Homo sapiens: one gene and its partners. The protein of the gene in region 3 purifies or fractionates together with the protein of the main gene of each other region. This does not show direct contact. Each region holds a gene or a part of one and is shown on either strand. Other genes may lie near its edges. The genes, in order: PACSIN2, ACTC1, COBL and PACSIN3.

Region 1 (4,690 bases), on a different chromosome or scaffold from region 3:
GCTGCCTCTGCCCAGTTTGAGAAGTTGGGTTTTTTTGTTTTTTTGGATTTTTTTTTAATGTGCCTTTAAGCCATCTTCATCCAGTTTCTGATATCTTTGGTTGGGGTTGTTACCCCCGACTTTGTTGGTTTATTTGTTTATAATTTCTAACTCCTTTTCAATCCTGCCTATTGGGTTTGACAGTAATTTTGTAGATTTAAAATGTTTCTTCCAGATCCAAGTAAATTGTCAAAAGCAAACTGATTGAAATGAACCTTCTAATCACCAGTTCACATTTGCACAATGTGAAAGCTTTCCTGTCCGTTCTATTTTCTGTGTTATCCTGCTTTTTAACAATGCAAAATTAGCTCCCAGCCAGTGTGGCTTGACTTACGTCTCTTGCGGTGTTCTGGCTGTTTGCCACATGGTAGTGTGGGGTTACAGGCCTCATCCTAGCCTCGGTAGCCTGGATCCAGGCCTGTGAGAGCACAGCAACCAATGAAGGCAGGACAAAAGAAACGCCAGGGGCCCGAGGCACGAAGCGGTGGAAAGAGATGGTGGTTCATCGTGGCTGCTGCCCTGTGGCCCCTGCATCTGCTCCTGATGCCTCTGGGTTAGATCTGCAGGCGCACTGGTCTGGCAGAAGCGGCACGACAGTGGGAGGCTGAGCCAGTGCTTACGCATGTCCCACCCTCCCAGGGTTCTTTAGTGTCTTAACACTTAATCTTCACAGTACCCCCAGTCCACAGATGAGGGCCACAGGCCCAGGGAGTGGACGCAGTTGGTCCAGGTCTCCCAGCCAGTGAGTGATGGCTGTGGGATTTGAGCCCAGGCAGTCCGGGGAGCACTGGAAGCCCCAGGTATTAGCTCCGCAGGCATGTTGACCAGCATTGCTGCCATACAAAATCCAAAGCATCAGGGAAATGCTAAACCAGGGGGAAAACTGCATCTAATTCTGAAAAATGGACCAAAAAATGCCAAAGAGAGTTACAAAACTTCAAACTTAGCAATAAAGGCAAAACAGCACTGGGACTATTTCTTTCCCACCAATTGCTTGCTCCTGACGAGGTCCGAGCCAGCAGGCCCAACTGGCCTTCCCTGCAGTGAGTTACCAACCAGAAGCACACAGGCCCCTGCCCACCCCTGGGCTCTGAGCTGCTCTGCTTCCCTAACCTGGCAAATGCCAGACCTGGGGCCCTACCCTAGTGCCACCTCCCCCTCACCACCCTAGTCTGCCTCCTTGAGACCAGGATCCATCAGTTCCTCTCATCTCTGTATCTCCTCTTCTACCCAAGGCCTGGCCAGAAGTAGGAGGTCCTTCAGGTTGGAACAACCAAAGATAAATGGAACCACGTTAATACATTAGAGCCACAGGGAGATTCCAGAACAGCGCCAGGGGCTCCTTCTCAGGGTCTCAGGAAGGGTTGACACATGGCACCGTGCACAAGTCATCAGCCAGGTGCTGGGGATAAAATGACAGGTATGACTGTCAGACATGGTCCCTTCCCCTCGCAGCCTGGAAGTTGCAGAGGAGAGGGATTAGCAAAGGCAGAGAGACCCCAGAGACAGCTGCTGGGAGCAAGGCGGCCGGGGCCCTGGGGAGGGGACAGAAGAGGCCCAACGTGAGGGAGGGGCACAACCGAGGGACGATTCCTGCCACCTGGCCAGGGTGGTGAGGAAGGCACAGCCCTATGGAGCTGGATGCCGCAGTCTCAGTGGGAGCCACTGTGGCAGCTGAGAGCAGCTTGTTCCAAATTACTGTGTGAGACTGTCATCTCTAGGTCTGTCAGAGGCCCATGACCAAAGAGGCAACTTAAAATGCATGCATTTAGTAGAGAAATGACCAGGCCCTCGGCCTGCCCGCCACAGAATGCCTGGCCCTCCACCCTCTGTGGGCTCAAAGCTCGTGAATGCGGCTCTGTAGCCCACCGTCGGTGTCATACCTCTCATGGAGACGGCTCCCTCTTTGTCTTGCAGGGGATGAGCTGACCAAGATGGAGGACGAGGATGAGCAGGGCTGGTGCAAGGGACGCTTGGACAACGGGCAAGTTGGCCTATACCCGGCAAATTATGTGGAGGCGATCCAGTGATGAGTCGGGGACAGGCCAGCGGGGGGACGGAGGCGGCGGGCCCAGGAGCCTCAGCCAGCCACGTGGGCATCCACTCCTTTTCCTGCAAGAGATGATGGTTCCATTGCTCTTGGCTTCATGGTGTTCCTGGAAGGCAGATGAGCTGGTCATTTCGCCTGGGACTCGGCACCTTTCCGAGTGCAGCTGGAGGGATCTGAGCGCAGGAAGACGCAGAACAACAGAAATAGCCGCCCCTCCCCGCCCACTGTGCCTGTTGGCCTATCATAGATCTCTATGTTCTTGACTTTGTCTCTCCTTTCCGAGTCAATGGTGGGTTACACTGATCTTGTTCCACTGATTACTCTCTCTGACGAGTCCATCACCTGCAACTTAAATGAACAAGCTTACATCCCATTTTGAGTGAAGATTTTGAGGTTTTTAATTTAAAGGCTGTGTACAGTTATACTTTTTTATACACCTGTTCATTTCTACTTAAATTATGGCACAGATTGATGCGCACCAGTCTTGAGGAAACGATCTCCCTATTCCCTTACCCTGTTACTCAGCCACGCCGTGTGTAGGCTTAGCCTCAGGTGGCAGATGTTTGAGGAAAGGAATTATGCCAGGAAGGTGGGACCGGGTTATGGTCGGGTTTCTATTGGGAATGCTCTTTGTGCTTTTGGGCATCTGAATGGAAGCTTTACATAGAACCTTAGGTAGAACTCCCCCAAATCGCCATATTTAAAAATTATTTTCACTCTATTCTTGCTTAAAACTGTACTCTTTTGCAAATTAACAATTTTATCACTGATTCAGAGTTAAAAAGAAGACTAACTTTTCAAGCAAATGCATCTGTAAAGATGCTTTAGATTAGACTGTCATGTCTCAGTGTCTATCTGTATATATTATTTGATATTCAGAGAATCTAAAGCACTCGTCTACTGTTTTAATGAGATTTAACAGCTTTTAACAGTGAGTTTCGTTTGTAAACTGCTTGAAGTCTGTGGCATTCAGGCACACGTCTGGCTGGCCGGCTGGGTCTCCTCCCGGGCTCAGTGGGCCTGGGGCCTCTCTGACGTGGTGCCTGCTGGAGGGAGGCTCGTCGTCACCAGCTGACTGCTGGTCCGGCTTCTGACCGGCCTTTGTCCTGGCTCCGTAGCAGAACACTGTAAAAGTGCCCGCGTCTTTGCAGTAGTTGCAGATTTCAGTCGTCGTGTTACTTGTGCACAAACAGAAGCTGGGTCTTACCCGCAGCACGAGTGTCTCGGGCTGCCCGGAGTCGCCCGGGAGCAGGTGCTGCAGCCAGAGTTACGCGGGGGCCACGCGGGCCGGCGGGGGTGGGGGGAACGTGGGGGAACCTGTGTTTCACGTGACTCAGCAGTGCCCGCCGCCGTCACCAGCTATGCATTCACTCCGTTTCCAGTGAGCAGATGTCTTGCTTGGAAAGTGGACCTGTGTCTGTGTCTGTCCTGAGAACTTACCAGCAGAAATCCTCATTTCTGTGCTACGGATTTACCAAAAATTGTCAAGTCTTTTTCAGTTTAACAGTTCCTTTACATGTGTAGTATTTGAGGAAAAAAATCAATAAACAGTTGATCTCGTGCATATGGAAGTCCCTTCGCCATCATCTGTCTTCATGCCCACTTCACTTGGCGGGGGTGGCCTCCCTGGGGCTTACTAGCTTTGGAGCTGGGCAAGATCCAGGGCACAGGACCCCTGCCCAAAAGGCCACGGCCCACTGCCCCTGCCAAACTGGAGGTTGGGGATTTGAGGCACCTGAGCCCCTTGGGGTTCCCTTCTCCCCGAGACCTGCTGCTGTTTGACCTGGGCTTCCACATGGTGCGGGCATCGGCTGGCGCCTCTCTATTGCCCCAGCCCAAACAGCAGGACAAGACTGACATCACCCATAACTCTCCTATGAGCACATTTTCCTGAGCACCTACTGTGTGCTCTCCACTTTTTACTTACATTATCTGCGTCTCCAAACATCTCCACAGGGTATGGGCAAGTCTCCCCATTTCCATTCTACCGAGGAGGAAACAGAGGCTCCAAGAGCCAGCCAGGGTTTCTTGAGGAGTCTCAGCCAGCCCAAAGCACTGAGCGAAATCCCTGAGGAACCACCCCCTCCCTCGCTGGAGAAACTGAGGAGGGAGGAGGCTTGGACTGGCTTGAAGACAGGAGAGAAGCAAGACGTGAGGGCGGCTGTGGCCACGCTCACCGAGCCCTGGGAAGGCTGCCCAGAAAAGCACGCCAGCTGGGCATGGGGCCTCACAGAGCACCTGGGAGGAGCAAGGCAGGCAGCTGCCCCTGCAGTGTGGCTTTGTCCCAGCTCAGCAAGGGTATGGGACAGATCCTTGTCACGCAGCCTCCTTGTCTGAGGGGTGGCGGGTCCCCTGCTCCCAGCTTCTGAGGAGTTGGAGCCCTACAGCGCAGGGCGGACACCCGGCTCGGCCCACAGCCCCAGGCTGCAGAGAAACAGGCAGAACGGGGTTGGGAGGGAAGGTGGGGGGTCAGAAGCAGGCTCCTGGTGCCAGTGGCCTCAGTCACTGCCCAAACACCATGGCAAGACCACGGTCCCCGCTGAGCTGGATGAAGCAACCTCCACTCTGAGGCTGGATCACACGGCCCCCCCCGTGAGAGAT
Region 2 (8,654 bases), on a different chromosome or scaffold from region 3:
TGATGTGTGCCTGTATTCCCAGCTACTCAAGAGGCTGAGGCAGGAGAATAACTTGAAACTTGCAGTGAGCTGAGATTGCCCCACTGCACTCCAGCCTGGGGGACAGAGCAACGCTCTGTCTCAAAAAAAAAAAAAAAAAAAAATGTAGTCACCAGGATCCAGAGAAGCATCTTCCTTCTATGTTCCCTTCTATGTTCTCCCTCCTCCGTGCCCCTTCCTCCTTCCCCTGCCCTCCTTTTCTGAGTCTTATTAAATGGTTCATTACAGTTGGTCCTATCATGTTAGAAGACAGTGACGGCTGGGACCTGCCAAGAACAGAATCCATCTGGGGCCAAATACCCTCTGCCTGGGTTAATCCCCTTGGTGGTTGCATATAAAACACGGGGAAGTATGCTGTGAAGATTAGCCATGCCTCATATATTGGACTCTGAACACCAGGATGTGTGGGGGCCTGCAGCCCTCACCATCATGTCACTTTCTCCTTTCAATGAAAACTGAAACCCAGATCCAGCCAGAGGGCAGTGGGGGTGAACAAATGTGTAGGCAAAGAAAATAGGAATGTTTAGGAAGGCTAGATCCTCCCCCCGGTCTGATCTAAACCGAGGCTCTCCCTCCCCCGGCACACAGAATGCAGGAGGGACAGGAGGTGATGGGGAGGGCTCATGGGGAGGAATTAAGTGTGGCTCTGTCTGTTTCTGGCTTCTCTGTAAATACTGTGACACCTCCGAACGGAGGAACAGCTGAGATAAGTGACTGCTAATCCCCCAGTGCCGGGGAGGAGGCTGGGCCGCTCCCTTCCAGATCCCAGCAGATGGTGGATGAAACAGACTTCCCCCGAGGCAAGGGCAGTGGGAACTGTCCCACCTTCTGTTCCTTCAGTTTGCCCTGCACGTCTCCCTCATGGCCAGTCCACGCCGAAAAGGGCTTCACTGGCCCTCAAGAGCCCTGGGGACCCGCCCCAGCTCTGCCATCCCACTGGGATCTACAAGGTCAGCCAACCTGGACTCCAGCCAGCACTGGCAGCTTGGGCAGCATCCAGCAAAGCTCTGTGGGCTTCAGAGAGAACAGCCAAGCAGTGCGGCTAAGTTTTTCACTCTGCAGAGAAACATACCTAGGGGAGAACAGTGAGGGCTCATTTAAAATGCAGATTCAATCTTCCAGGGTGGAACCCAGGAATCTGAATTTCTATGAGGCAGTCTAGGTAATTTGGCTGGAGGCGGTTCTAGCATCACATTCTGAGAAATAGCAGACCAAGTATATGTGAAGGTATTTTTGGTGGTGGTTGGGAATAGGGCTTAAAATCAGGTGCCTGAGTTTGAATTGTCACTCCACCATTTGCTCACCTGTGTGACCTCAGACAAAAAAGGCTCAGTGGTTCCCTACCTCATAGGATATAAACTGGTCTTTCTCAAACTGCAGGAAGCACAATTTAGTCACAATTAGCAATAAAAAAAATAACACTCGGAGACTGCACAACAATGTGAATGCACTGAACACTTTTGAACTCTGTATTCCTAAATGGTTAAGATAGTAAATTTGATATATGCATATTTTACCATAATTAAAAAAAAATCTAGAATGTACCAAAGAGGAGATGTCATTTTTTTCTTCTTTGTTTTGTAATTTTTTTTGAGATGTCATTTTTATATGCTTAAAAAGCCAATCTCAATTTTCAAATTAAGTGGATCTGTAAAAAGTAGTTTAAATAAAACTCAGTCATGAAATCTTACTTTCCTGTTGGTTTACATTTTAAAATATATAAAATAGGGTTCAAAGTTTTTAAAATGTGGAAATCAAGGCCAGGCTTGGTGGCTCATGCCTGTAATCCCAGCACTTTGGGAAGCTGAGGCTGGCAGATCAGTTGAGCCCAGGAGCTTGAGACCAGCTTAGGCAACATAGTGAAACCCCGTCTCTTCAAAAAATACAAAAATTAGCGGGGTGTGTTGGCATGTGCCTGCAGTCCCAGCTGTTTGGGAGGCTGAGATGGGAGGATCAGCTAAGGTGGGAGAATCGGCTAAGGTGGGAGGATCACCTGAGCCTGGGAGGTTGAGGCTGCAGTGAGCCCTGATTATACCACCGCACCTGATTATACCTGGGTAACAGAGGGAGACCCTGTCTGAAGCAAACAAACAAATACATAAAAATAAAATAAATAAAATGTGGAAATTGAGTGGTAATACAAATAGTAAATATCAAACAATCATAAATTTTTAAGAAATAAGCATTCGTTCTTGCTACACACATAACACATATGAAAATACACTGTTTTGAGTGTTAGGCAATGAAATTGAGCGGAATAGGAAACACATTTTTCAAACATTTTAAGGGTGAATATTGTTTCACAAAACTGCTGTTGTGTCCTGCACTGTTCTACTGGCCTCCCACTAGAGCCAATGGTCCTGAGATGAGGGGGCTGGAAGTGGCCTCCTAGATCCCCGAAGCCTGTGCGAAGGACAAAGGTCAATAATCATGGTTTTCCATTCCTGAGAGTCTTTGCACCTATAGCAGTCATAGTGGGAGTCTCTCACCAGCCACTCCCATGCAGAAACTCTTTCTCTCACACAAATGTTCATAAACTTCAGTTCTGCTCTACTTTTAAAAACGAACAACACATCCTGGGGAAGGCTTTCTCGGCAACTCTTTCAGACCTCCATTCCCTTTTTGTGACTATCCTGCTGATACCTCTTCTTCCCTCCCAGTTTGTGCCATAGCTGTCTGACTTTTCTGTAATTGCCACGGAGGATGAGTCCTGCTCTGTTTTATTTATCACTGAATCCTTAACTAGCACAGTTCTTGTCCTGCAAAGATTTGCTGAATCAATGAAGAATGAAATCAACCTGATTCTTTAAAAGGCAGAGCTACTACTGCCTCCAAAAGTATCATTATTACACATACAATTTGCTTTGTATCTTCCATATTACTTACAGCATTTGTTTCTAACTATTACAATACACAATAACTTCTGCAACAAGTGTTATGGTATCACTTTTGAGAGGGAAAACTTGGGGCTTGGGAAGGTTAAGTGTCTTGCTCAAGACCAAACAGATAGTTAGTAAGTGATAAAGGCAGCATTTGAGCCCAGTTCTGTCTGGCTCTGACACCAGTCCCATTTCTCCTTTTCCTTGGTTTTTCTATATTTTCACGAGACAAGGCAGTTCTACTCTTGGCATCCTGTCAATAAACATTTTCACTGTAAAATGCCTGCTGTGCTGCACAGAGTAATCTCAGCCAGGTCTCTTACCCGACCCCACCACACAGCTGCCCATCGCGTTTCTTCTCCAGACCAACCCAAACATGGTTGGGGAGTTCAGAGGGGAGGGCCCAGCATTCCCCAGTCGGGACAAGTATCTAATCAGCAGGCCTCCTCAGCATATCAGCCCAAGACCACTCTAGAGAGAGATGCCAGTGCCCAGTTTTCTATTTTTAACTGGTGTGAACTGGAGGAAAAACACAAGCATTAAAAATCAAAGCTCCAGTCAAGAACTGAGAATGCAGGGCACCCCAGGGCAAACTAGTGATCTGTGTCCTTCTTACATCTCCCTCTTCCTTCTCCCTCTCCTCATTTCATGTCATTTTTCTTTTTCCTTCTCAAAAGTTCAAGATCCTGCAAAATCTGTTTTCCACAGAGGAGATGATATCTGTCATTTATGCCAATGCTTCTCACACTTTAATGTACATACCAAGCAAATGAGGATCTTGCTGAAAAGCGGATTGGGATGGCTCTTGAGATTGCATTTCTAGCTCATTTCCAGGTTATGACAATACTGCTTGTCCATGGGCTGCACTTTGAGTAGCAAGGATTGGTGTAGTCCTATAGTTTAAGTTGTTGCTATGTTCTCCATCAAAGTATTTGCCTTTGCAGTCTTGTCTCCACCTGGAGTGAGGGCCTCTGCCCCCAGTTTAAAGATGCTCATCTCCCCACCATCAAGTGGGCAAGCTACTTTTGGCATTTGTTCCTTTATTCACTTTGGCAGCAGGGGATCCTTTTCTGGCCTGAAGACCAGAGTCTGAATTTGAGCAAAACCCTGCAGCATGGATGAGGGCTACCCAATAACTGGGCTGGGGTAAACCTGGTCCCTTCTCCAGCAAGACTTGGCCAAGCTCTCACAGAAACCCTTTTCTGACTCTTCCCTGGCCAGACCCTGATCCATGCATGGGTTGGAACTCGGGTGGCCTTGGTTAATCTCAGCTTTCTGACCTAGATGAGCCCAGCACCAGCTCTCTGAGTAAAGCCATTCAGGCTGGCGGGGACTAGACCAGAAGGGTGCCCTGTCCTGGGTGCCCCTTTTGCAGCCACTCAGATGTGCTGCTGCGGTGTCCTTTGTGCTGGTGGCAGCCCTGGAAGATGAGAAGCCGCTGTTGCTCCCCTGCTGCCCTGGCCCAGCTGTCAGGACCCCTCAGCAGAGGGCAGGGCGCCAAGCCTTCCCACTGCATGTGGCTTATTGTCCCCAAGGCTGGCAGGGCTGCGGAGGACCGAATCCACAGACCATCCAGGGAGCACCCACACCCCAGAAAGGGGGAGGGGTGGGCTGGCGTCACTTAGTCTTCCCCTGCCCCCTACCCTTCAGCGCCTGCCCCTCCCCAGCTCCCTATTTGGCCATCCCCCTGACTGCCCCCTCCCCTTCCTTACATGGTCTGGGGGCTCCCTGGCTGATCCTCTCCCCTGCCCTTGGCTCCATGAATGGCCTCGGCAGTCCTAGCGGGTGCGAAGGGGACCAAATAAGGCAAGGTGGCAGACCGGGCCCCCCACCCCTGCCCCCGGCTGCTCCAACTGACCCTGTCCATCAGCGTTCTATAAAGCGGCCCTCCTGGAGCCAGCCACCCAGAGCCCGCTGCCGCCGGAGCCGAGCCGACCCGCCCCGCCGACGGTGAGTCAGCGCCCGGCCCTCCGCGTTCACTCCTCGCCTGGTCCGCGGGCCGCGCCGGACGCCAGCCCCGCGCCGCCACCTGGCCAGCCCGGCCCGCATTCAGCCAAGGCCCCAGCTCCTGCCGCTCTGCGACTGCCTTTTTTTTTTTTTTTTTAAAGCCCACACTTTTTGATTTGGTTCTAACTTGTTTTGTCCTGGGCGTTGGTCCTCGCAGGACCTCGCAGGGGCTCTAAGAAGGGGAATTTTGTGGCTCCCCAAGGGGCTTTTGGGTCCCTACTCTCGTGCGCTTTCCCCTCCATCTGGGGCACAGGCATGGCGATATGGACAGGGCTGGAGATCGAGTTCCCAGTTCGTGAAAAGGAAGAAAGTTAAAGGGCTGGGGAGGACTAAGGGGCTGGGTTTCTTGGGTCCCTCCTTGCACCTGGCACCCTAGCTGGAACTCCTGGCCAGGGAGCCTGGGTGGATTCCTCTGCCCTTCTCTGTCCCCAGTCTCCTCCGCGGCTTCTTCCCTCCCTTTTATGATTCGAGGGGAAGGGAGGTGGCAGGAGTGTTCCCCGCCCAACCCCCTGTCCAGTCCCCACAACCCCCTTCTGCTCTGTCCTGTCCTCTGGGTGCGGAGAAGGCCAGCTGCACAGGCAGCTAAGCGTGGTCCGCCCTCCCCTCCTCAACCTGCAGAACCCCCTGAAGCTGTGCCAAGATGTGTGACGACGAGGAGACCACCGCCCTGGTGTGCGACAACGGCTCTGGGCTGGTGAAGGCCGGCTTTGCGGGCGATGACGCGCCCCGCGCTGTCTTCCCGTCCATCGTGGGCCGCCCGCGGCACCAGGTAAACTTCCCGCCGAGCCCCCCGTCCCACTCGGGACCCCTTCAGTCCAGCGATCTAGGAAATGGCTCTCACCTGACCCTCTTGTTCGATGAACTCTTTAGGCCAAATTAAGAGAAGGCTGATTGACTTCAAATCCAAGCCAAGGCAAGCAATACTCCACAAAACCCCAACATACTGAGGAATGTACACCTGAGTGGCACGCCTCTAAAAGGGTCCCACTCCCTGGTGTGAAAGCCACCTGCTTCTCTCCACTAATGGCCTTTTGGACTTTTAGTCTTTAGTGTCTTCTCTGCCTTATACACTTCATTTTCTTCCTTGTCCTCTCTTTTCAGTCCTGTTTAAAACTTCTAACAATATCACCTCTCCCAACCAACCAGGACCAAATCCACATTCCTCTCTCATGTTCACAGCCAGTTTACAGGGTTCCCCAAAGGTGTAATCAATCTATCTCCTTCCTGGCTGTTGCATTTTTAGAAGCCAGGCGTGACAGAGGCAGCAAGTGCCATGGTGATAGTGACATACCACCTCGTTTGTTAAAAGACATGCCATGCTCTCTGGGTTTGTCACATGCCTGGCCAGACAGGCTGCCAAGCAGGAGAGCTTAGTCCTCAGAGCTGGTGAATGACTCCAGAACAGCTCTGGACAGGCTGAATTTCACTGTTGGAGTGAGGATGGCATATCAGCCCATCATTATGTGTTCACTTGAATGTCAAAATCTTTTTCTTAGGAGAAATACAATGTGTCATTAATTCAGTCATTCCAAAATGCAGTCATCTATATTCCAGTTGACATGGGTGATGAGCTTAATAACTTAATGAAGGCATATGATATTTTTAAGGTGAGGTGAGGCTCTGCTTCTTCAGTGGAATAGCTTCATTCTCTCCTGAGTTATATTCTCAACAATAGAATTATACATCTTTGGGGGAGTGGGGAGAAGGTAGAAGATTGATTTTTAAATAATTCTTCTAAATTGGGGTAAAATCGTATTGCTTGTTATTTCTGGTATTTAAATATGTTCCTTGACTTGGGCAGTTAGATATAAATGGACAAGACACTGATTATATTCCTGACATGGTGAGAGCATGATTTTCTCATTTTTTCTTCTCATAGGGAGTTATGGTGGGTATGGGTCAGAAGGACTCCTACGTAGGTGATGAAGCCCAGAGCAAGAGAGGCATCCTGACCCTGAAGTATCCCATCGAGCATGGTATCATCACCAACTGGGACGACATGGAGAAGATCTGGCACCACACCTTCTACAATGAGCTCCGTGTGGCTCCCGAGGAGCACCCCACCCTGCTCACAGAGGCCCCGCTGAACCCCAAGGCCAACCGGGAGAAGATGACTCAGATCATGTTTGAGACCTTCAATGTCCCTGCCATGTACGTGGCCATCCAGGCAGTGCTATCCCTGTATGCTTCTGGCCGTACCACAGGTATGCTGGGCTCTGGGGACAGTTACTGATGAATCACATTCCCAAGTCACCGACCTTGCTGTGAATCAGATCCCCCAGTTGAAAAAGGGATAATCCCTTTCCTCCCATTCCCTAGCAAGGTCTGTGCTAAGAGAAAGAGTTAACAGTAGTGCCCTGAGGTTAGTTTCGGAGCACAATTATTGTTGGAGCTGATAGCTTGTGGAGATAGGTCCTTCCCTCATTTAAAGCTCAGCGCAGTGTAGCAGCTTGGAGTGCAGCAGTCATTGTTATGTGTTTAAACCATCACATCACCTGGGCAAGCATCCCCAAGGAGAATACATTCCATACAGGGTCTGAGTCAAAAGAGAGAGAAACGTGTAAGTTCAATAGGAGCAAAGAAAAACACCCTTGGGTGCTTACATAATGTGCTCGTGGCTGACAAGAAAGATGGTCATTTGAAAGTGTCCTCGGGAATTTTTTCTACTATAATAGTTAAAAAGATGAGCTGCAGTTTGCTTCAGATTTAGTATTCCTGATGCGCATTTTTATTCTTTGTGTGTAAGGAATCTAATTTTATCTGGATCAATGCCCATTGCTAGCATCTCTTAGCCAAGATTGGAAGCGGGCTTTGCCGTGGCTAGAGCAGTGGTGTTGTCCTCAGGAATTTACCTTGTTCTTGTCTACTTCCCCGGGCAGGCATTGTTCTGGACTCTGGGGATGGTGTAACTCACAATGTCCCCATCTATGAGGGCTACGCTTTGCCCCATGCCATCATGCGTCTGGATCTGGCTGGTCGGGACCTCACTGACTACCTCATGAAGATCCTCACTGAGCGTGGCTACTCCTTTGTCACCACTGGTGAGTGTGTGTGTCTCATCTGCCACAGTGTGGGTCTGCTTTCCTCCTCTCTCACTGAATCCGCCTACCTCCCTATAATTGACTTCTTGCTTCAGAGCATGACTGTGATACTCTTTATTTCTGTAGCTGAACGTGAAATTGTCCGTGACATTAAAGAGAAGCTGTGCTATGTCGCCCTGGATTTTGAGAATGAGATGGCCACAGCTGCCTCTTCCTCCTCCCTGGAGAAGAGCTATGAACTGCCTGATGGCCAAGTCATCACTATTGGCAATGAGCGCTTCCGCTGTCCTGAGACACTCTTCCAGCCCTCCTTCATTGGTGAGTTGTAGGGTCTGGTGCAGAGGCACGATTTTCCCTGGAAATCTTAGGGTCTCCCAGAGTAAAATCTAGAAGGCTCAAGAAGCCCTTGAGTTAAAAGAAGTCATAGTTTGGATTCCCACACAGCTCAACCTCAAGTCCTGATGGCTCATTAAAGGGGAAGTCTATGTTCTGCTCTAGTGATATAATAAAGGATGACACACTGAGTTCATCTCAAAATAAAGGATGACACAGAGTAGTAACTGAATAGCACGTATCTGCAGGAAAAGGGCTAGTTCACAAGAGCTGACTTATTCCCGTAAGTTTCACTACCAAGTAGCTGGACTTTCCAAGTTCCTCATCATTAAATGCAATAACATTCCTACTCATA
Region 3 (5,911 bases):
CGTGGGATGCGGGTAGTGTCTGTGTGTGTAGGCAGTGTGGATCTAGGCACTAAGAGTCCTGTAGGTGAGTGGTTTAGACTTAACTCTGTAGGCAATCCAGAGTCACAGAAGCATGTTTCAACACTAAGAACATCACTGAGGTACTTAATCGTCTGGACCTTCAGTGTGCTCATCTGGAAGATGTTGCCTTCATACCACCTGGGCTCACTGAGAAGATGAACCAAGAATAATCATGAAACACTCTGCAAAAAGACCAAAGTAAGGCCAGAGGCTGTCATTATTCCATATTCCACACTTCAAAACCCAGGCTTCTGCGCAGCTTGCAGCTTGAGATACAGAAGGCAAGACAATTTCAAAAGTAGATTTAGCCTAAAGTGGGTCCCCTCCCCTCACAAGGAAAATGAACTAGGGAGGTGGGCAACCTCTCGTCCTTCCCGAGGCCCACCTCTGGGCCCCTTCTGTCTGCTGCCCCCTTGGTCTGGCCAGGGAGCAGGGCTGCTCTGAGAAGGGGAACACCATGCAGTATGTGAAGACCAGGGGCACAGGCCAGCAACATTGTATCTGCTCGACCTCCCATTCCTGACAATGGCCTCCTTGTGCCCCTAACACCCAGGCAGCGTCCTGCCCCCAGGGCCTTTGCACTCACTCTTCTCGCTGCCAGTCATGCGTCCATCCGGAGTTTGCTCCCTCACTTCCTTCAGGGTTTTACTCAACGGTCACCTTCTCACTGGGCCTTTCTTCATCCCCGTCTCCTTTGTCCCACTTTCCCGATGGTTTTTCTTCTTTACACTTATCAGCGCCTAAATGTACTCAACATTTTGCTAACTTATATCACATCTATGGTCTGTCTCCTCCATAGTAACATAACATGAATTTCACAAGTGTGGGGATTTTTGCCTGTTTGTCAGCTGCATGTAACCCAGGGAATGGAGGAGTGCAGGAGGGAGCCAGAAACGTGTGTTGGTTGAATAACTGAATCCGTCCTTCCCATTTTGGAAGAGGGGTATCCAAACCAACTGTAGTATGAAATTCACACAACAGCTAAGATTTGATTTTCTTTTATTTGTGGCACTAAAAGACAGATAGCTGTGATGAAGAGCAATTGGCTGGTAGCTCGTGCCTCACCAAGAGTTTAGCAACGTTAATCAGTGAATGCAGAACAGCTTCCATTCTACCTGAGGCCTAGATCTGAGATCGCTGTGAAACATTAAAGTGACCTCACCATACTTGTTTTCTCACTCAGATACACATTTTATTTCATCAACACATCTTGATTTCTATTACTTTTTTCAATATAACAAAATGTTTTAGAGATATATATGAAAAACTACTGCTGTAGTTAGACCTCATTATAAATATTGGTGACTGGGCACCATGTGAGAAGACCACGATATCATACAAAGGGAGCCAATGAGCTGTTGGACAAACGCGTCAAGGCTGAACCAAAATTGTGATGCTCTCAGCGCAACTTTGATCTGAACTCTTGACAGGTGGGCATCCAACATCCCTGCTCCTTGACCCTCTGCAGGATTCCAGAAGGCTCCCAGTGAAGTCATCAGGCTCCGTACACAGGCACCGTGGGGGAGGCCTATGTCACTTCATAGCCTGGGGAATGGCTGTCCATGTGGGGCACTGCCCATCCACTCCAGTGGTGGTGTGACCTCAGCCACCCGCCACCCTTGCAGGACTCGGGCATGCCCTGGCCACATGATCACGTAGGACTGTTTTCTGGGTGGTAATAGTTGATTTTTAAAAGCTTAGTTGGTCAGATCATGGACTGTGACCCTCTGTGAAGTGTTAGCCCCAAATATTTGAGGAAGAAGAATCCAGCAGTTTTACTACCTAACAAAGCCACCTTTGAAAAGCCTCCCAATTTTTTTTTCTTACTACCAAAACACACAGCATCATGGAGCATATCACATTCAGATTGTTCCATCTGATTCATATGTTTTTTCTAAAATTCAAAAGATCTTAAATCAGTAAGTAGTTTCATCCATCTGTATGTGGTAAAAGTCTCAAAGGTCCAAAATCAGTCTAAGGCATGATTCTTTTTACTTTGCCCATAAATATAATTAAGTGTGAGTGCTGGGCTCCAGCATTTATAGTCCCATTAACCTGCCAACAAGAATCGTTTATTAGCAACTTAAGATATTCAGAGGCAAAACACATTTCCTTGGCACACGAGCTGCGCAGCGACACAGCATCTTCTCCTTTCCTTTCAAGCCGTTATACAGGAACACACCGAAAATCAACTGTGCGCATTTGGCCTGTAGACAAGAAAGTAACACCAAAACTTGATGTTCCTGGCTATGCAGACTCCTTGAGTGACGCCTGTGGGCATATTACAGGTGGGTTTCTGCAATTCTCTGGCCTCTGTTCATTCACACGAGCAAGGGCACCTGCAGGGAAGAGAGATTCACAGTTATTTGGTATGTCAATAAGCCCAGGATGCAGATCTTCTGGTGCTAGAGAGCTCTGTGCACAGCCACTCTTGCAATAGTACTCCTGGAACCCCCTTCCCAGTTCCTTTGACCTGCAGAAAGGAGGCTGTGATCAGGGCTGTCCTCACAGACCTTCTCACGCTCCAGCTTCCTCGTAAAAGCTGCCAGGGAAGGACGACTAGCAGGATGCAGAGGCCCGAGGTCAAGGGAACTGGGAGGTGGGCCCTGGGGTCCTGGTCCAGACAGAGGACACTGCCTCTTGGGCTGTGTGGGTACGCATCTGAGGCCTTGCCCTCTGCTCAGGTGTGCCTGAGAGGATCGTGACTAACATTTGATGTGGGACGAGTTACCCTCTATAACTTCAGTTTCTTCATCTTTATATTGGAGACATACCCATAATAATGACAATAATAAACTGCTTGTTTGGTTAAGCTGATGTTTTAATGAGTGGACTTGTGTCACACTTTAAATGGTGTCTGGCACATGGTAAGCACACAGGAAGTATTCTAGGTACTTTCCATGTGGTGATGGTGGTTAATTGTGGTGGTGGTGGCAGTGGTAACGGTGGTTATGGTAATCGTGGTGGTGGTGATGGCGGTGGTTGTGGCAGTGGTGATGGTGGTGGTAACTGTGGTGGTGACGATGGTGGTGGTGGTGGTGATGGTGATGGTGATGGTGATGGTGGTGGTGATGCAGACCCTGCCCTGTGCATGCTCTCTCACACATCCCTCGCATCAATCTTACAGATGAGGAAGTGAAGCCCCAAGGCCCAGAAGAACTGGGAGGATCGACACCACCCGGGTCTGTCTTGACACTGGGCGCACCTGCCCTTTTCCTGATGCTCCTCCATATCCCTCTCTTCTCTAGGTTCTCTCGGGCCCTCTTCCTGAACTCCCATGGTGGGGATTTAACATCTACTTCAAGCCTGTCCAACTCATGGCCTGGGACCACTTTAAATGTATCCCAATACAAATTCGTCAACTTTCTTAAAACATTATGAGGGTGGGCATAGTGGCTCACACCTGAAATCCCAGCACTTTGGGAGGCCAAGGCGGGCAGATCACCTGAGGTCGGGAGTTCGAAACCAGCCTGACCAACATGGAGAAATCCCGTCTCTACTAAAAATAAAAAATTAGCTGGGCATGATGGCACATGCCTGTAATGCCAGCTACTCAGAAGGCTGAGGCAAGAGAATAGCTTGAACCCGGGAGGTAGAGGTTGCATGAGCTGAGATCGCACCATTGCACTCCAGCCTGGGCAACAAGAGAGAAACTCCATCTCAAAAAAAAAAAAAAATATATATATATATATATATATATATATATATATATATATATATATATGATTTTTTTTGCAATTTTTTTTAAGCTCACCAGCTATCGTTAGTGTTTTTTATATGTGGTACAACACAATTTGTCTTCCAGTGTGGCCTAGGGAAGGCAAAAGATCAGACACCTCTGATCTACTTGTACAAACACAGTGCTCCACTTAGCCAGATGTTTCCTGAGGGCCCCACTTATTAATAGGGGGAGTGTTACAGTCTGAATGCTTGTGTGCTCCCAAATTCACATGCTGAAATCCCAACCTCCAAGATGGTGGTATTAGGAGGTGGGACTCTGGAATTTGATGAGGTCATGGGGGTTGAACCTCATGAAGGGATTGGTGGCCTTATCAAGGAGGCACCAGGGAGCGTGTCTACCCTTCCATCACATGACACGATGGGCAAGACTCATGGAACTTGTGATGTGGAAGGGAAGGCAAGCATCCAACAAAAACCACACCAACTGCTAGAGAAATTAGAGCTGTGGTTTGCATTATGAAGGAAAAATTATGTGACGCTGTATTGGGAACCTAATCTAGACTGAGGGAGGCTTTCTGAAGACGTGAGGTTAATAAAGGAACAAAGGGATGAGTCAGGAATGAGCTGGTCAAATGTGGGGAACAGCTCTGGAGGAGTGGAGAACAGCATTTGCTGGCCCTGAGGATGGTCACTGTGGTAGGTGTGCTTCTCCCAGGAGGCTCCTCCCCGTTCTACCTGCAGAAGAGGCAGCTGACTCAGTAGAGCTGCAATAAGCAGAACAGTCACACGCAAAGAGTCTGCAAAGACAGAACTGACCCCTAGGCCTCAGAACAATTTCACATTAACCAAAGCACACCACAGGTTTACATTACGAGCAACTAAACCAGGGGTGATGCAATTGTATTGTGGGTCACATTCACATCCTGATAGAAATTGCTATTCCCTCGTCACAGCAACTTGGAGTTCTCTAATGCACATATGAGGACCTAGGGCTTAGATGAAAAGAGAGTTGGTGTGTTTTTTCTCTTTCCTGGTTTGGGGCCTCCTGTTACTGTCACATGTCTAATCATTTCTTACAAGGTCTGTGGTCAAGGCCAAGTGTCATGACGCGTGTGGCCCGCATCAATTAATTCCTGCCGTGGGAAAACAGGCACCTGAGGGCCCAGACAAGAGACTGGAACTCAGTTCAATAGGACGTTTCCCAAAGCGGCTAGGAGCTGATAAGGTGTCTGGGCCCAGCAGCAGCAGGACACACGGAAGGGCTGGGAGAAGTCACTTATGATGTCTGTGCCCCATTTTCGCACCTGTCAAAGGGGAGCTACGACCTTGACTTCCAGGAAGGTGTCGGGGTAGATGCTTGCCCCGCTGCCCTCCTGGGAGGAAAGATCCACAAGTCATCGGGATTAGCCTGTCCCAGCTTCTTTGGAAAAGTTCCTAAGGTCAATAGCAGACCCCGCACCCCTGCCCCCTTCCTCTGGCTGAGAGGTCCTGAGGGCACAGATGAAGCTTCTTTCGTCTATCACAAGCAGCTCCGACAGTGCCCGGACCCTAGTAGGTTCTCCGGAAATGCTTGTAGAATGAAGCACTAGACATGAATGTTTTAAATATACACATGGATTAGGAGGGTACTTGTACATTCCAGGCCTTCTGAAATAATGCATTTAAAACAGATCGACAAAGACAGTCAGACGCATACAGCTTTGCCTTTAATAAGAACGCAGGGCTGAGTGGAAGCAAGCACTGAGTGTGGGGTGGGGGCAGATCTGAACACTGCCTTCAGGAGGAGTGGGTGTTCCACTGAGGAAGTGGGTGCACATGCAGCCGAGCTGCAAATGCTCTTATTTGGAGCTGGAGGAGAAACACAGCTGGAAGTTTCTCTGGCAGCCACAAATACAGAGGCAGAGACATCATTGGATTCACACCGTGAAGGCAAATGTAATTTCAATTGCCTTGAAAAATGGCAACGTCACTGTTAAGGTAATTATTCCTCCTACATCAAATTTACCCTTTTGTATTTGATCATGGGCAGCTTACTGCCAATGTGAAATTTGTGTATTACAGGTTGGGTGACCAATCACCCAATTTGCCTGCGACTGTCCCAGAAAACCTTCCCAGCATAGCTGGGCACCCTCATTGAAAGGAGGAGGCTGCACTGCTAAGGGGAGGAGGA
Region 4 (9,807 bases), on a different chromosome or scaffold from region 3:
GAGGATGGAGTCTCAAAGCTCTTCCTCTCACTGCTCTGCACTTCCCCCCCCGCCCCCCCACATACCTGGGGCCTAGAGATCACTTCAAGGACCCGGGTGTCCAACTCTCAATGCTGCCACCGTGACTCTGCCTTGAAGGAGAACAGAGCGGGGGTGAGGGTGGGGGCCTAGAGCGTCCAGGGCGGTGCCCGGCACCCCCAATATAGCAACTGCTGTCAGAAGCGCCGGATTCCAGGGAGGAGAATGCCAGGCAGGTCACACGATCCAGCCAGGGATTAAATGGCAGGCGGGGGTGGGCGGTGGGCAGAAGGCCCCACTCCCCCAACTGCCGATGAGAGGACTCCTGCCCAGGCTAGGGCCTCTGTTGCCTTCCCTTGAGTGACAAGACAACCCTGTTACCCGAGAGGCCAAGTCAGAGGGTGCCTGGCCACATCCCAGTAGCTCCCTGTACTGAGGAGGGCACGAAGGGAACCAAGAGGCCTGGCTTCTGTGTTGGCCAGGAAGCCCGAACAAGTGTATGTAACTGTCTCCTCCTAAGGAGGCCCCAGCTCCCTCTAAGATGGAACTCCTCTGTGTGCTCAGCTGCCATGCCAGGGCTGGTGTGAAACTCAAACCAAGCAACGCACCAGAAATACGAGGGGCCCTGCAGTCACGGAAGATACTCATCTCACTCCACACATCCACTGAGGGCCCGCAAGGCTCCGTGGGGAACACACAACCCGGGCCTGCCCTCCAAAGGCCTGGCGTCCAGGGCAGCATGGGGAAGTGAGAAGCGATGGCCAACTATAAGAATGTCTCCCAGGCTGGGTGTGGTGGCTCACGCCTGTAATCTCAGCACTTTGGGAGACTGAGGTGGGTGGATCACCTGAGGTCAGGAGTTCCAGACCAGCTTGGCCAACATGGAGGAACCTCGTCTCTACTAAAAATATAAAAATTAGCCAGGCGTGGTGGCGGGAACCTGTAGTCCCAGCTACTTAGGAGGCTGAGGCATGAGAATCACTTGAACCTAGGAGGCGGAGGAGGTTGCGGTGAGCAGAGATTATACCACCGCCTGGGCAACAGAGTGAGACTGTCTCAAAAAAAAAAAAAAAAGTTCCCTAGAATCGCAGAGGACGGCAAGCCAATTCCAACCCCAGAGCCATGGCCCCAGGGACTCAAGGACACAGTGGCATGTGGCTGCTCCCCTCCTGCCTCTGGGCAGGGTCTCAGCTGTCCCCAGCACTGACTGACTCACAGACCCTAGAAGGAAATCGCTTCCTCTCTGAGCAGGCCCAAGGGACACAGCCAGACCCAGGAGGACAGTGTGCGCCCTTTGTCCCCAAAGCAGGGCGCTGTCACAGCGCTTCCTCCAAACTCATGCACCTCTGCTTCTCCTTCAAACCTCCAATTAAGGCATCTTCTCCTCAGTCACTTCCCCTGTTTCTCTGTCCTTGCTCCTGTAGCCCCGGGTGACCCTTCAGCCGGGGTGTATAACCCATGGAGTTGTGGCTGACAGGACAGTGTCTATCTTCAGTCACCGACAGAGGCTTCCAGGATTCTGATTTGTGTGTCCCCACGCGCTGGAATCAGCAATAATTAGTTAAGTGAGAAAAGAAGCGATGTCCACCTGGAGCGCAGGAAACGCGCCCGCTCCAGCAGCTGTGGGAATGCTTGGTCCAAGTGGGCTTCCCCCTCTGCTAACAGGAGACAGAGCTAGGGGCTCCGCGGAGACCCAGGCAATGGAGGTGCCCACCAGGGGCCTCACAAGCTCGTCACTTGGTTCCCTCTGCAGTGTGTCCTGTCTGCCCAGAAAGGACCTGACAGGGCGATGGAGAGAAAGAGAGCTGCTGCCATGAATCACAGGGCTCTGGAGCCGCCCCAGTCCAGCCTCAGGAGCCTGGGGCCCCTTGCCTGTTCCAGCCTCCGAGTTCCCTGCTCCCCAGAGAGCTGCCCCCCACCCCTTCCCTCTCTCTGGCCCCAGAACAGAGCAAGCTGTGTGTACCGGGCTGGCACAGCTCCCTCCGGCCTCCCAGAGCAAACACAGGCCCAAGCCCCGGGTGCAGCCAGGCCCCACAGCCCCAGCCTGACCTCTCAGCAAGCAAGCAAGGAGGGCTTGCACCTTGGCCCCCATTGAGCAGGTTGGCACCCTGTGCCTCCTGAGCTCAGCAGAGACCCAAATCAGTCCCCACCGCAGGCAAGAGCTCAGAAAGCAGGTAATGCAATCTTCCCAGCCCCGGGAGCCAGCACGTTCGGCTCCGAGAGGTCTTCCTGGGCTTGGCAGGGTCTCCTTGCAGCTGCACGGGCCAAGGTAGGAAGTCCCTGGTTCAGGGAAGACCCAGTCTCCCTACCTGAGGCCTGAAGGTACCCGGCCCCAGACCAGCCCCAACCTCTTCCAGAAGCTGGGGGCTTGCCCCTGGGAGGGAGCTCAGCCATTCTGCCTGGCCCATCCCTGGAACCTGAGTCACAGGCTGCGCCCAAGGGCTTCTTTCCCGGGCAGCCCCTCCCGGTGCGCCCGCAGCTCTAGGATTTGAGGACAGAGCGGGGGGGAGGGGAGGGGGCGTCAGTAGGCTGGTCCGAAGAGGGACAGCGAGGTTAGAGGGGCTGGAACCAGAAGCCAGAGCCAGCCAGGAGATCAGGAGGCTGGGGGAGGGGGTGGCGCAGCCAAAGCGGGAGGAGGCAGGGCCAGGGAGGGGCATAACAAAGGGGCACTTTTGGAAACCCGACCTGCCGGCCGGGGTGCCTGCTTCCAGATGACGCACTCCGAACCCCAGCCTCCACTCCAGAGCTCGGCGCCCAGAGGCTACGCGCCTCTGGCCTCAACCCTTATGGACCGCGCCCCTCGACAGGACCCCTTGCCGCCCGGAGCTGCATAACTCGGAGCCCGTGGAGCCACGCGGAGCGGCAGGGCCAGGCCTAGCCACCGAAGCTCTAGACTTCTTGGCCAAACTTGTTGAACTTGGTCTTGGCGGGGGTGGGGCCACTGATCACCGCCAAGGGGAGGGGACGCCCCCTGCCTGGGCCGGCCTTGCCGTGGGCTCCAGATGGTGGCCCCGGGCAGCGGACCCAGGAATCGGGGCTCGCTGCATAGGGCGAGGGATCGCCAGGGAGCGAGGACCCTCTGGGGCCTCGGGGCGGGCGCGAGGCGAGCGGACGGGGGCCCTCGAGGGGCCCCTGAAGACGGCTCAGCCCTCCAGCGCCGGCGCCGCCTCCCCCGGGCGGCCTGCGGAATTGCGAAGCCCGCGGCACCGCAGATGGGACGGCCCCTCGGCGCGGCTACGGCCCTTCCCGTCGGCACGCAGAGCGGGGTGGCCGGGGGCTCCCTGGGCGGGAGTCGGCTCCATTGCAAACTTCAGAAGCCGGAGCAGGAGAGGGCGGGCTCGAGCCACCGCACCCGCCGCCGCCTACCCGCGCGTCCCCTCCAGGGCACTCACCGCGTCCTCCCTGGGCCCCTCGGCGGGTGGGGGTCCGGCCACGCTCCGGCCCGAGTCCTGCCGCTCCTGGGCCCGCGCCGCGGCCTCCCGGAGCGCGCCGGGCCCTCCCCCGGGAAGCCCGGCCCCCGGCCCCCGGCCCCGCCCCTCTCCTGGCCGCCGCTGCCTCAACCCCACGCGGCGGGGCAGCGGGGCTGCAGGCATCGCGGCGACCAGCGGCTCTTGTGGCGCGGGTCGAGGTTTCTCTGCTTCGCCCGTGTGCGGAGTGCCTGGGCGGGCTCCCCAGGGTTGCGCCCCGGTGCCGCAGGGAGCCAGATTTCGGCTTTGCCTCTCCCGGACCGTTGCAGAGCCTGGGAGACCCGAGGGAGCAAGAAGGGACCGGGCCGGCACGGGCAGCCTTGGAGAGGGGCCGGGGGAATTACACTGCCTTACATTTTTAGCTGCACAGCTTGTTTAGAAATTGGCTCAGGCGAGGCTCACAACCACCCCTTGTAAGCATTAGGATTCCCACTGTACAGATGCAAAAACTGAGGCTCGGGGGCTTTTCAGAGGCTTGCCCAAGATTTCCCTCTAGTCAGGCAGGGCTGGGACTCCAAAACCGTGCCCTACCGTTCCACAGCTGCCCTGCTAATCTGGGGCGCCTTCTAAGGCCTGAGACGAACACGCGGTGGGGGTGGGACAAAAAGGCCTAAGCTCCTCCCGCTCCGAGTTCTTATTTCCAGATTTTGTACCACGATTCATTCTTACCCTTCGCCCCTCCACCCCCTTTATCAGTCTGGTACATTTTTCCATATCGCCACGATGCCACCCCACGCTAAATAAATCCCTTCTCCCTCCTCTCTCCCTACTTCCCTCTCCCCGCTTTCCCCCGGGGGTGAGATTTTGCAGAGCGGCTCCGTCTGTTATTTATATCCACTGGAGCGGTCCAAGAATGTTCCGAAGCTGACCTAATCGCCACCTGCTCGGCCTCTCCGCCCCTCCCACTCTCTCCTGGGCCCGGTGACCCAGCGGCGGTGCCCTGAGCCTTGAAGACCAGGGGGAGCGCGGACCAACGGGGTCGAACGCCCGGGCGCAGAAGGTCCCGGACGCAGAAGGTCCCGGGCGCGCAGAATCGCAGCGGGTCGGAGAGCCCCGGCGCTCTCAGAGGAGTGCGCCCCCAGGGACGCGGCTCTGAGCCCTGGGAAGCTGAGGCGCCTGGCTGCGCCCTCTGAAGCTCGTACTTTTCCTCCCACCCTCAGCTCCCTGAAGAGTGTGAGTGCGTGCGCGCGGAGTTTTAAACGGCAGCTTTAAAAATAGCAAAATTATGTTGTTTCTAAATCCAGGAGGAATCACTGACGCGTTCTTTACGCAGATGAATCCGCTCACAAAACGGGAAAGGGACCTGGAGAAAATGAATGGGGGTAATTTTGCCTGCCGAGGGCTCACTTGCTGGGCAGTGCTAATGGAAGGGTAAAACTGCCTCCCCAAGACACCTGTGGGGCACCCAAGGCGCGCCACCTTTGGCCTGAGGATTCTGGCCGTGTTTGGCAAATCATAGCTGAGTAGTGAATCTGAAACCTGGGATGTGGTTTCTGAGACCAATTTCAACACCCACTCTCTCTTAGGGCTTGGACAAGTCCCTTATCTCTATTTCTACCTCTATAAAACATGACAGGTGACCAGCTGACCTTCCGCTGAGCCATGAGCCCCAGCTAATTAATGATTGTAAAAAACAACTGCAGATCAGAGGAGCTGGGAAAATGGCAAATCACAGCCACAGGGTTTTGTATTCTTTAAAATCAGTTAACATCCCTCCTAGCGCCTGAAGGCCTTTAGGCACCTAGACCGAAGTGTGAAAACACAAGAATGAAATTAATTACAGGAGCCACCTATTAAAACCTCATTAAAAATAAAGTTGGCAGCCAGGCTGTGGGATCTGGGAAAGCCAGGCCATAGAGAGACTCAGAAAACAGGGCTGTTCATCAGACCACAAAGAGAAGGGGATGTGGACTGGAAAACATCTGGCTTCCCTTGGGCTCAAGTCTGGGAGCAGAAAGCAGAAATGTTGCAGCTGATCTTAATTGCCCCTGAGGTACTGTAGGGGAAAAAAAACAACAAAATAAAACCCAGAGCATAGGGGGCTGCTTCTAAGCTGAAAGTAGACAGACATGCCTTTGGAAAGCCAGCTCCAAGCTAATGCTACCCCCAGGGCTCCCATTCTGCGCTCTATGGCCAGAGCCCTTAACATCCACACTGCTCCATCAGTGCTGTCCTCAACCCAGAGTTCAAGATGAGATGTCAGTGGACAGAGGGCTGCATAAAGACAGAAATCTGGTCGGGCGCGGTGGCCCACGCCTGTAATCCCAGCATTTTGGGAGGCCGAGGCGGGTGGATCATCTGAGGTCAGGAGTTTGAGACCAGCCTGGCCAACATGGTGAAACCCCATCTCTACTAAAAATACAAAAATTAGCTGGGCATGGTGGCGGGTGCCTGTAATCCCAGCTACTTAGGAGGCTGAGGCAGGAGAATCGCTTGAACCTGGGAGGTGGAGGTTGCAGTGAGCTGAGATCGTGCCATTGCACTCCAGCCTGGGCGACAAGAACAAAACTCCATCTCAAAAAGAAAAAGAAAAAAAATGACAGAAATCTAAGGCTGGGCACAGTGGCTCACGCCTGTAATGCCAGCACTTTGTGAGGCTGAGGCAGGTGGATCACCTGAGGTCAGGAGTTCAAGACCAGCCTGGCCAATAATGAAACCCCATCTCTACTAAAAACACAAAAAAACTAGCAGGCGTGGTCGTGGACGCCTGTAGTCCCAGCTACTTGGGAGGCTGAGACAGGAGAATTGCTTGAACCCGGGAGGCTTAGGTAGCTGAGATTGCGCCACTGCTCTCCAGCCTGGTCGAAGGAAACTTTCTCTCAAAAAGAAAAAAAGACAAATCTAGCAAGGCATTTGGCTCAGGGTACCAATGGGCAGATTGGTCCATAGCCAGATTTCACGCCACTCACAGACTCACCTTGAGTTTCTGGAATATCCTAACCACTGTGCCTTCATTTGTTTATTTATGCATTCATTCACCCAGCCAAGAAAACACTTGAGTTTTTACTCCATGCTAAGGCTATGCTAGGAATGTTGGGAGTACAAAGTTAAATAAGGCAGAGTCCAAGTGTACCGTAATGATGCAAGGCAGATAGGAAGTATTGAGAGAAAACAGGCAGAAGGGACGGCCTTTCACAGGACATGACACTGATAGGTCTTGATGAGTAGGAATTAGTCACGTGGACAGGCATTCTAGGCAGGAGCTTCAGGGTGTGCCAAGCCCCAGGGGTGTTACCATATGACTTTGTGACCTAGCAATTCTACTTTTTGGTATTTACCCTGGACGAACATGTACAAATGCAGAAAGAGGTACAATGATGTTTGCATATAGTACTGTTTGCAACAGGGGAGAACTGAAAACAAATGTTCATCATGAAGGCAATAGTTGAACAACCTAAAGTTCATTCATGCTGTGGATTACTCTGCAAAAACTCAAGAACAAGCTAGAGGCAGGAGTTCGAGACCAGCCTGGCCAACAAAGTGAAACCCCTTCTCTACTAAAAATACAAAAATTAGCCAGGTGTGGTGGCGTGTGCCTTTAGTCCCAGCTACTTGGGAAGCTGAGACAGGAGAATCGCTTGAACCCAGGAGGCGGAGGTTGCAGTGAGCTGAGATTGCGCCATTGCACTCCAGCCTGGGAAGCGAGAGCAAAACTCCATCTCAAACAAAAACAAACCAAAAAAAAAAAAAAAAAAAAAAAAAGAACAAGGTAGAGAGAGACATATTCTTTTTTTTTTTTTTTCGAGACGGCGTCTTGCTCTGTCGCCCAGGCTGGAGTGTAATGGCGCAATCTCAGCTCACTGCAACCTCCACCTCCCGGGTTCAAGCGATTCTCCTGCCTCAGCCTCCTGAGTAGCTGGGATTACAGGCACGTGCCACCACGCCTGGCTAATTTTTGTATTTTTAGTAGAGACGGGGTTTCACCATGTTGGTCAGGCTGGGCTCAAACTCCTGACCTCATGATCCACCCGCCTTGGCCTCCCAAACTGCTGGGATTACAGACATGAGCCACCGCACCCAGCCAAGAGATGTATTCTTATAAGAAGACCTCCAAGACGATGTCAAGGGAAAAAAGCAAAATGCAAAACACACTAAATCTTCACAGAAAATATACTTCATACTGATTTTGGCGTTTATCTTTAGGCAGAGGTCTAGAATTGGTAAGGGACATTTTTGTAATGTTAGAAAATTTACAATGAGAATGTACCTATGTGTAAATTATGTAACTAAAATTAAAAACTGGGGGGTGGGCGAGTGGGTATTTGTATCTAAAATAGTGCTGTCCAATTATTTTCTGCAGTGGTGGGAATGTTCTATAGCTGTGCTGGCCAATATGATAGCCACTAGTAGCATGAGACTGTTGAGCACTTGAAATGTGGCTATTGAAAACATAAACTTGCCGGGTGCAGTGGCTCACGCCTGTAATCCCAGCACTTCGGGAGGCCGAGGTTGGGTGGATCACCTGAGGCTGGGAGTTCAAGACCAGCCTGACCAACATGGAGAAACCCCATCTCTACTATACAAAATTAGCCGGGCATGGTGGCTCATGCCTGTAATCCCAGCTACTCAGGAGGCTGAGGCAGGAGAATTGCTTGAACCTGGGAGGCGGAGGTTGTAGTGAGCTGGGATTGCTCCATTGCACTCCAGCCTGGGCAACAAGAGCGAAACTCCGTCTCAAAAAAAAAAGAGAAAACATAAACTTTTAATTAAAAAAAAATTTTTTTAACAACTGGTAATCAATTTATTAAAATTGTTGACTTAAGCATCCTGCAATGGTGACTTCCACCTCAACTCCTGGCTCAATACTGATGGAAGTAATCTGCTTAACAATCTCAGAAGGACTGTGCAAGTCAATGAGTCGCTGGTGGATTCTCATCTGGAAACGATCCCATGTCTTAGAACCTTCACCACAAGGGGTTTTTCTTGTAGTGATTCTCAAAGTCTTGGTAAGCATTCGGACTGGTCCTTTCACTTTGAGATTCTTTTCCTTTGCGCCTCTGATCAAGTCAGCACACACCTTTTCCAGGGATTTTATGTTGCGGCTTGTTAGGGTGATTCGAATTCAGTGAATCGCCACCTCCGGCTCCACGGGTGTTTTTCCGGTATCCTTAAAAGCCATGGCTGCTGCGTGGCTTCCTGACCGACTTTTTCCTCAGCGAGAGTGAACAGCAGTGAGTCAGGAGCAGGAGAGTGCGGACGAGAGACTCACAGCACCTACGACCGCGTCTTCCTCCAATTTAAAAATTTTGAAATTAGGCCAGGCGTGGTGGCTCATGCCTGTAATCCCAGCACTTTGGGAGGCCGAGGCAGGAGGACCACTTTAGGCCAGGAGTTCGAGACCAGCCTGGCCAAGATGGTGAAACCACGTCTCTACTAAAAATACAAAAATTAGTCTGGCATGGTGGTATGCACCTATAGTCCCAGCTACTCAGGGCAGGGCTGAGGCAGGCGAATTGCTTGAACTCAGGAGGCAGAGGTTATAGTGAGCCAAGATTGTACCACTGCAGTCCAGCCTGGATGACAGAGCGAGACTCTATGTCAAAAAAAAAAAAGAAAAATTAGCTGAGTGTCGTGGCACATACCTGTAGTGCCAGCTACTGAGGAGGCTGAGGTCACCGGAGCCTGAGAGGTCAAGGCTGCAGTGAGCAGTGATTGGGCCACTGCACTCCAGCCTGGGCAACAGAGTGGGATCCTGTCACAAAAAAAAAAAAAAAAAAAAAAAAAAAAAATTAACAACTACATGTGAGTAGTGGCTACTGTATTGGACTGTGCAGGTCTCGAATCTCTAGAATAATGAGGTCATGATGGGGTGGAGGTATCAGAGGCATTTGAACCAGAGAGACTCCAGCTTGAATAGGGGCTGGGTAAAATAAGGCTCAGACCTACTGGGCTGCATTCCAAGGAGGTTAGGCATGCTGAGTCCAGCTGATAAAAGGATGCGATAAAGAAGCTGGCCAAAACCTACCAAAACCAATATGGCAATGTGACCTCTGGTCATCCTCACTACTCATTATACGCTAAATCTAATACATTAGCATGCTAAAAGACACTCCTACCAGTGCCAGGACAGTTTACGGATGCCATGGCAATGTCAGAAATTTACTCTATGTAGTCTAAAAAAGGGAGAAACCCACAGTTCCGGGAATTGCCCACCCCTTGACCAGAAAGCTCCTGAATAATCCACCCCTTGTTTAGCATATAATCAAAAAATAACTTAAGTATTCTTAGGGCCGGGCGCAGTGGCTCACGCCTGTAATCCCAGCACTTTGGGAGGCCAAGGCGGGTGGATCACGAGGTCAGGAGATCAAGACCATCCTGGCTA

Evidence for each region.
Region 1: the proteins of COBL (region 3) and PACSIN2 purify together in Homo sapiens (affinity purification with mass spectrometry; 4 studies listed by BioGRID and IntAct, with this or other methods). This does not show direct contact.
Region 2: the proteins of COBL (region 3) and ACTC1 purify together in Homo sapiens (affinity purification with mass spectrometry; 2 studies listed by BioGRID and IntAct, with this or other methods). This does not show direct contact.
Region 4: the proteins of COBL (region 3) and PACSIN3 purify together in Homo sapiens (affinity purification with mass spectrometry; 4 studies listed by BioGRID and IntAct, with this or other methods). This does not show direct contact.

What each region holds. Positions count from the first base shown.
Region 1 is NC_000022.11:42,868,736-42,873,425, reverse strand, and holds the end of PACSIN2 (protein kinase C and casein kinase substrate in neurons protein 2), read left to right. Parts: exon of another isoform or gene 1-934; intron 935-966; exon of another isoform or gene 967-1,441; intron 1,442-1,922; exon of another isoform or gene 1,923-1,956; coding exon 1,957-2,069; 3' UTR 2,070-3,653; downstream 3,654-4,690.
Region 2 is NC_000015.10:34,791,720-34,800,373, reverse strand, and holds the start of ACTC1 (actin, alpha cardiac muscle 1), read left to right. Parts: upstream 1-4,824; 5' UTR 4,825-4,868; exon of another isoform or gene 4,869-5,231; intron 5,232-5,465; exon of another isoform or gene 5,466-5,543; 5' UTR 5,544-5,565; coding exon 5,566-5,694; intron 5,695-6,256; exon of another isoform or gene 6,257-6,532; intron 6,533-6,804; coding exon 6,805-7,129; intron 7,130-7,804; coding exon 7,805-7,966; intron 7,967-8,092; coding exon 8,093-8,284; intron 8,285-8,654. UniProt on the Homo sapiens protein: Actins are highly conserved proteins that are involved in various types of cell motility and are ubiquitously expressed in all eukaryotic cells.
Region 3 is NC_000007.14:51,015,170-51,021,080, forward strand, and holds the end of COBL (protein cordon-bleu), read right to left. Parts: intron 2,400-5,911; coding exon 2,382-2,399; 3' UTR 1,043-2,381; downstream 1-1,042.
Region 4 is NC_000011.10:47,182,939-47,192,745, forward strand, and holds the start of PACSIN3 (protein kinase C and casein kinase substrate in neurons protein 3), read right to left. Parts: upstream 3,497-9,807; 5' UTR 3,411-3,496; intron 2,910-3,410; exon of another isoform or gene 2,704-2,909; intron 2,438-2,703; exon of another isoform or gene 2,328-2,437; intron 1,797-2,327; exon of another isoform or gene 1,607-1,796; intron 1,560-1,606; exon of another isoform or gene 1,363-1,559; intron 132-1,362; 5' UTR 66-131; intron 1-65.